Linked DNA regions of Homo sapiens. The protein of the gene in region 2 purifies or fractionates together with the protein of the main gene of each other region. This does not show direct contact. Each region holds a gene or a part of one and is shown on either strand. Other genes may lie near its edges. The genes, in order: POGLUT1 and CD46.

The links.
Region 1: the proteins of CD46 (region 2) and POGLUT1 fractionate together in Homo sapiens (co-fractionation; one large-scale study listed by BioGRID). This does not show direct contact.

Annotation. Positions count from the first base shown.
Region 1 is NC_000003.12:119,482,152-119,485,975, forward strand, and holds part of POGLUT1 (protein O-glucosyltransferase 1 precursor), read left to right. Parts: intron 1-3,176; coding exon 3,177-3,236; intron 3,237-3,824. UniProt on the Homo sapiens protein: Dual specificity glycosyltransferase that catalyzes the transfer of glucose and xylose from UDP-glucose and UDP-xylose, respectively, to a serine residue found in the consensus sequence of C-X-S-X-P-C.
Region 2 is NC_000001.11:207,761,762-207,765,585, reverse strand, and holds part of CD46 (membrane cofactor protein isoform 3 precursor), read right to left. Parts: intron 1-3,824. UniProt on the Homo sapiens protein: Acts as a cofactor for complement factor I, a serine protease which protects autologous cells against complement-mediated injury by cleaving C3b and C4b deposited on host tissue.

The DNA.
Region 1 (3,824 bases), on a different chromosome or scaffold from region 2:
CTTGCAAATACCCTTTTCACATTCTTCTTTTTGTAGCTCTTTTCCCACCTGCCATGCAGCTGCTTTGTTTTCAAAATCTTTAAAAACATTTTTACTGATTATGAAACCTATATATGCTCATAAAATTTTACAAATATGTATAACTCAGGCAACTTTCCCCCTAACTTATTGGTGTATCTAAGTAATCTTTCCATGTCTTTGTTTCATGTCAGTACATATGAAAGAGTCACTTTATTTATTTGTTTGTTTGTTTATTTTTAAAAGGCAGGATCTCACTATGTTGCCCAGGCTGGACTCAAACTCCTGGGGTCAAGGTGTTATCCAGTTACTCCACCGTGTAGTTATTAATACCATTTTCCCCCAGGTAAACTAGTAAGCAATTTTTAGGCAGATAGAATGTTTTAAAGTCTAATCTTATATGAATACTTTTTTCTTTTGATACCTTCCCATTTTATTCAATTGAATTTATTCATGGTTATAGAAATACAATTTTGTTTTTTAGAACCCTCTGTTTAGAATCTCTAATGATGTTCATTTGTTACCTTGAAAATTTAATAATCTGCTTGTTTATCCATCTGCACTGATGTCTGCCTGCCACTGTTCATTCTATTTTTCTGATATTTTGGGAGTTTGTGCCCACTGATTTATATTTCACTCTGTAGAAGAATTCATTGTTCTTTACAGATCGAAGATTTCATTTGTTACTGTCAGAGAGGGTTTAAAAAAGAGGGCTGGGGTAGCACCAGGCTGTGGTGGCCACCGTTAGCACTTGCCTGGAGAAACAAGTCCTAACCTAGGTCTTTTGAGGGAGGATGGGTAGGTTAGGAGAATGAAAGAGAGAGAACAGTGATACACAGTTTGGGTTTGTGTATATGAAACACAGCTTCCCCAGGAGCCAAGGAAATAAAGAGAAGTAACTTTGAGTATAAATTGATACATGTTTTGTTAGATAGTTTGACAATATGTATCAAAATTGGAAATGTATACTGTGTATCCTTTGACCTAGCTGTTTCATGTCTAGAATGTATCCTAAGGAATTAATCAGATGAATGTGCAAAGATTTGTGTACAAGGATGTTTACTACCATGTTGTTTCTTAGAGCAGAAAGTTGGAAACTACCTAAAAGTCCATCAATAAAGGATGAAGTGAATCATAACATGACTATAAAATGGAATTTTTGCAGTGAGTCTTTGCCAGAGATTATAAAATGGAATATCGTGCATGAATGGAAAGGCAGTGTAGGTTTTAAAAACTCTGGGTTCAAATCCTGGCTCTTATTAGCTGCATGACTCTGTGCAAGTTGCTTAACCTCTAAAGGACCTCATTTGTAAAATAGGGGTGATAAAACCTACCTCTTAAGATTGTGAGAATGATTTTTTATTTACAAAGCACTTAAAACAATGTCTGTAACATAGTGAAGTGCTATATAGATGTTGGCTGTTATTATTATTTATATTTCCTATTAAGATTGTTACCTAACAGTATGTATGGTGTGACCTCTGTTACATAGAGCAAAGTTTCTCAGTACTAGTGTTGCTGACATTTGGGGCTGGATAATTCTTTGTCCTGGGAGCTGTCCTAACCACTGTAGGATTGTTCAGCAGCATTTCTGATCTTTACCCACTAAATGCCAGTAGCAGTCCCCTAGTAGTAACAATCAAAAATGTCTACAGACATGGCCAAATGTCCCCTGGGTGGGAGGGACGGGCAAAATTACCCCCAGTTGAAAGCTACTAATATGAATAAATGATTGCAAGGAAATTCTCGGCTAAAATGTTACATTGTTACCTCTGGACAGGGAGATTCCAGACGACTTCTTACTTTTATCTTTATGCTTTTTCATGAGAACTTTGCATGAGGAGCATGAAACATTTTCCACTAAAAACAAAACAACAAAAATCCAGTGCTATAGTGTCTCTGCTTGGGCAGGAAGAAGTATGGGGAAAACAAGATAGTTCTGGCCTTAGACTGGAGAATCAGGTAAAGGTGATCCATCCAGAAAAGGCCAGAGGATGAGCCACGTTGGCTGAGGGTGGAGGTCTGAGGGCCTGGAAAATACTGAGCAGCGTTCTCAGCTGAGTGAAAATGAGCAGCATGACATTATATGTATCTGAAAAGGACCTGTGCCTAGAAAGTTTATATCCTAAGTTTCTCCGTTACTGTAATCCAGCCCATCAATCCCTCATTAACTTCAGTTCAGCCTTCCCTTCCTTTTTCAGAGAAGATGCTGTGCAGACTTCTGTGCAGGGAGGGTTCCTACGAAGCAAGTTAAGAATGATGCATCTGTGAGCTAGCAGTTTCAGTAAGGAAGGCTGGTCATGGTAATGTGTACTGAGATCTGACTTTCAAGGACTTCATCTTTATAGAGCACTTAGTCTGGCTTTAAGAATACAAAGGTGCTTTTCAAATATCAAACTAAATCTGATGACACTTCCCACCTATGGAAAACATAAAATCAGAGAGTGATTTCCCTTTCATTCCATTTCTGATGCTTTTTTATTTTTTTGCAGTTCTGTACACATAATTAATTTCATCAGTAGCACCCTACTTAAAGTACAGAGGAAATCCACATTTGCCAAATTATAAACAGACCTAATCATGACCTTCAGGGTTTGGGGGCTTTTCTTTCAATGTTGTTAACTTGTTAATGGGGAGTAGATTTGTAGATACAACTGGGTAGCACCTCCAGAGCAATGAAATGGTAGCAAAAGGAAACAAAGTGTCCTTTAGGGCTTTTTCTTTTGAGTGACTTTGATTAGACTTACTTAGAAATATGAAGCTCTGGCCAGGCACAGTGGCTCACGCCTGTAATCCCAGCACTTTGGGAGGCCGAGGCAGGCGGATCACGAAGTCAGGAGATAGAGACCATCCTGGCTAACACGGTGAAACCCTGTCTCTACTAAAAAATACACAAAATTAGCCGGGCGTGGTGGCGGGCGCCTGTGGTCCCAGCTACTCAGGAGGCTGAGGCAGGAGAATGGCATGAACCCAGGAAGGGGAGCTTGCAGTCAGCCAAGATCGCGCCACTGCACTCCAGCCTGGACGACAGTGCGAGACTCCGTCTCAAAAAAAAAAAAGAAATATGAAGCTCTGAACTAATCTTCAGAAATGGTTAAAGCACATTCTTATATAGTTGAAAAAGATATATTGAAACTAATTAAATTCTATATTCTTAGGTCAGCAGCACAGTGGCCATGGAAAAAGAAAAACTCTACAGCATATTTCCGAGGATCAAGGTGAGTTATTTTCTGACATTTTACAAAGATATTCTTCCAAGTAATGTAAAATGTAAGTAACTTTGAGGGTATGACAAGCTCTGTAGTTCAAAGGGAAAGCTAAGATAACAAAGAAAGAAATGTGGAATCACAATTTTAGATTCGAGAATAATTCACATTATTTGCCGAAATCGCCATTGATTGAGTTGATATTCAAAGAAGTAAAGTTCATCCATTTCAGTCATTTAACAGATATTTTACATAGTGTCACAAATGTGTCGGTCATTGATTATGTGATGCCAAACACAACAGATGGGTGTCTTCTTACAGTCCCTAGGAGTAGCTTATGATCATGCCACGGTACTCTGCTGGTTAATGCAGAGCAGGACTCATCACCATATCTCTTGACTGCCTTTTTTATCACACCCTGTGGCTGCCAAATAGTGGTTAAGAGCACAGACTGAGACTGCTGAAAATGAAGAAGGGAGCAGGGAGGAAAGAGAAGAGAAAAATGGCAAAGGTAGTAGGAGGACCCTGTGTTGTTCAGCTCCATAGTCCCAAGGCCAAGAACAGTTCCTAGCATGTCAATATATGATAAATATCTGTGGA
Region 2 (3,824 bases):
TTTCTTCTTTTCCAACATGTGTGCCTAATAGCTTTCTCTTGCCTTACTGTACTGGGTGGGATCTCCAATATAATGCTGAATGGAGTGGTAAGAGTGGACATCCTCACTGTTTTCCTTCCAGAATTAGGTCTTTATTAATTAGACAGAAATGTAAGTAAGGTTTTTTTAACCACTAAGTACAATGTTACTTTTTACCACTAAGTATAATTTTTTTGAACCATGAAGTGTAATGTTAGCTGTGAGATTTTTGTAGATGTCTGTTATCAGGGTAAGATAGATAGTACCCTTCTGTTCCTAGTTTGCTGAGAAGTTTTATCATGAAAAAATAAGATGATGAATTCTGTCAAACATTTTCTTTGTTTTTTGCATCTAATAAGATAACCACATGATTTTTTTTCTCCTTAATAGTCTACTGATGTGGCAAATTACACTGATTAATTTTTGCATTTGAACTAATCTTGCATTCATAGGGTAAATCCTACTTGGTCATGATTTACTTTTCTTTTTATGTATCACAGGATTTGGTTTGCTAATATTTTGTTGAAGATTTTTGGTCCTGTGTTCATCAAGGATATTATTTGTAATTTTCTTATAATGTTTTTGTTTTCTGGTTTTCGTATAAGGACAATGCTATCATCATAAAATGGGATGAGAAGTGTTCCCTCCTCTTGCACTTTCTTGAAACGCTTGTGTAGAATTGCTGTGATTTATTCCTTAGATGGTTGGTAGAACTCCCCAGTGAAGCCATCTGGACCTTCAGTAGGTTATTAACTACAAATTTTATTTCTTTGGTAGATATAGGAGTATTCAGGTTATCCATATCTTCAAGTGAGTTTTGACATTTTGTATCTTTCAAGGAATCTGTCCATTTCAGTTGTCAAATTTGTAGGCATAAAGTTGTTTATAATATTCCCTTGTCATCCTTTAAATGTCTGTAGGATATTTAGTGATATTCTCTTTTTCATTCTTTTGTTTGTCTGTTGAATAATTTTGTAAAGTAATCAAGTAAAGTTTACATCACTGATATTAAAGAATGACCATATGCACAAAAGAATATAAAGCTTTTTGGCTAAGGGATGGGGGGAAGTCAGAAAAAGGATGAGAAACACATACGGGGTGGACGTGAGGAAGGAAAGTGAAAGGTGTAGGCACCCCCACCTCACTTCCTGAGGCAGGGCCGTCAAGGACTCTCAAGATCGAGCGGCCATTAATTACATGGATTCAGATTTCTTTCATTCTAGACTTAAATTTAACCTTAGGTTTTGGCTCCAGCACCAATTTAACAGAGCAACGTAGGCATTTCCAATCCAGCAGCACACGCTGTTTCCAAGCGCATGTGACTGGCGCACCGCAGCTCCGTGCACACCCCAGGAGCTCAGTCCGTGCCCAGAGCAGGTGCCTGTGCTGTGGAACCTGACAGGAAGCCTCCCAGAACACCGCCTATCACAAGGCGCCACCTGAGGGGATCTGAGGTCTCTAAAGATCAACTGGTGCCTGTGATTTCCAAAGATTTAACCTTAGCCTTCAATGACATTTACATATAAATTGTCAAATAAAACCCTCCATAATTTACACTTAAGTCTAGGAAGACATGGCACAAATGTTCCAATGACAAAAAAAAAAAAAAAAAGTGTAGCAGCTGTGTGTGTTTTCCCCACTTTGACCAAGCTCTCACTGTAACACAGGGCATAAATGAGAAGGGTTGCACACAAATTTAAAGTATACAAAAAAAAAAAACCAAAAAATCATACGTTAACGCTGTTGACTTGTTAACAATGCAAGGAAACTCACTGGAAAATAAAATCCCTTATTTGAACCTTAAAAGAATGAAATGTACCAACTAAACTGTGTAGGCTCTAATGTAGCAGCACAGAATGTTTCCAGAAAAAAAATACATTGAAAAAAAATAAAAAATATTCAGAGATAAAACTAAAAAGATTAAAATATATATATCTTAAGAAAACTTATTGCTCAAAACATATGAAACTTAATTCTAAGAAATTCACCTACCTAAATTTAAACAAGATTGCTGCAGTTGCAGCTCGCCGTCTCCGAGAGACACGAAAAGTGATGAGGGGCGCAGGGCTGTGGGGATGTCAAGACTGGCCCAAGGTCAAAAAGCCCTTGAGGAGAGCCCTAGCTCCCACTGAGACCAGCCTCTGGCCTGCCCTCTGCAGACGGGAAGGAAGGGGATGGGTCTGGGGCTGCAGACCCTGCTGGAATTAGCAGAGGAGCCAGCAAGGCTGGGGGGCTATAGGCTGGCCAGTCTCCCTTAGCTGGATCCCGTACTCCACGCCTGGCCAGCACTCCGGGACGCCTGGCTCAGGTCTCCATCAGGATCTCCACTACGTGTTCCTACTTGCCCAGGTCAGAATGCAATTGCAGCTGGAGGTGGGAGGCCGGACGGCAGCAGGCCCAAGCCTCTGAATGCTTTGCAGGGCCACCTCCCATCGTGTGGGTCAGCACCGTGTGTCCAGGTCATCATAGGAACTGACCACATCTGAGGCCAGTTCTTCCATGCAAACTGGGGTTTTTGGTCTTCAGTATTTCAAATATCTCATCTAGCTACTTCTGAACGCCTCCTCTATTTTCCCCAGGGCTGTCCGTCTCCCAGATGCTGCTCTTCAGGGCTCCTGGCGCCAGTGCTGAGGTGACAGAGCAAAGGTCTGAAAACTGGCCCCTTCACGCAGCAGTGTCCAAAGCGGGGGGCATGGCACACCCCCTCTGGCTTCCACATGGCGGGCACAGGCCACAGGCACAGGATCTCTGCAGAAACCAGGCAGTGGAACAACGCCAACCCCACACTCTCGGGTGCCTGTGTGTGCCACGTCTCATCCTGGGCCATCTCCTCTTGGATCTGCCAGGCGTGTTGGCGATGAGGACCCTGCGGCAGTGGTTGGGCTCCACCAGCAAGTGGTAAAGCTGGAACTTCTAAAAGGACAAGTCCGGGAGTGACTGCCCCTGCCGGCTGCAGGAGGGCAGGGTCTTCAAGCTGGCTGGGGTGCCGCGCCTGGCCACCACTTCTTTCATTCTCAGTATTGGTTAATTTGCGTCTTTTTTTGTCAGTCTGGCTACAGGTTTACACACTTTATTGATCTCCAAGTAGCAACTGTTGGTTTCACTGATTTCCTCTATTTTTTTTTCTTTTCTCAATTTCATTGATTTTGGCTCTATTTTTATCATTTCCTTACATCTGCTAGTTTGGGATTTAACTTGCTCTTTTTTAGTTTCTTAAGGTGGAAAATTAGATCATTGATTTGAGACTTTTCTTTTTTTCTAACACAAGTATATTATGCTATACATTCCCCTGTAAGCAATGCTTTAGCTGCATCCTACATATTTGGATATTTTGAGATGTTGTGTTTTTATTCAATTCAAAACACTTTCTAATCTCCCTGCTGACTACTTCTTTTATGCATGGGTTATTTAGAAGTGTCCTGTACACTTTCCAATTCTTTGGGGATTGGCTTTGTTATTGATTTCTGCTTTCATTCTATTGTGATAATGCATGTTGAATGATTTCAATTTTCTGAAGTTTGTTAAAAGTTGTCTTATTGTCTAGAATATGGTCTACTTTGGAGAATGTTTCATGTGTACTTGGGGAGTATATACTTTTAAATCACTGTTATTCAGTGATTTCTTTCTTTAAATGGGCAAGTCCCCTACATGGTCTTCATACTTTTGGTCACTCCAGAGTGCCTTAAACATTTGGTCTTTAAAAAAAAAATTTTTTTTATCCAGAGTTTATCATTTTTATTTGTGAGACGATTAGTCTGTCACAGTTTACCACTACCATAGCCAGAACTCTTAGATTTCTTGTAATA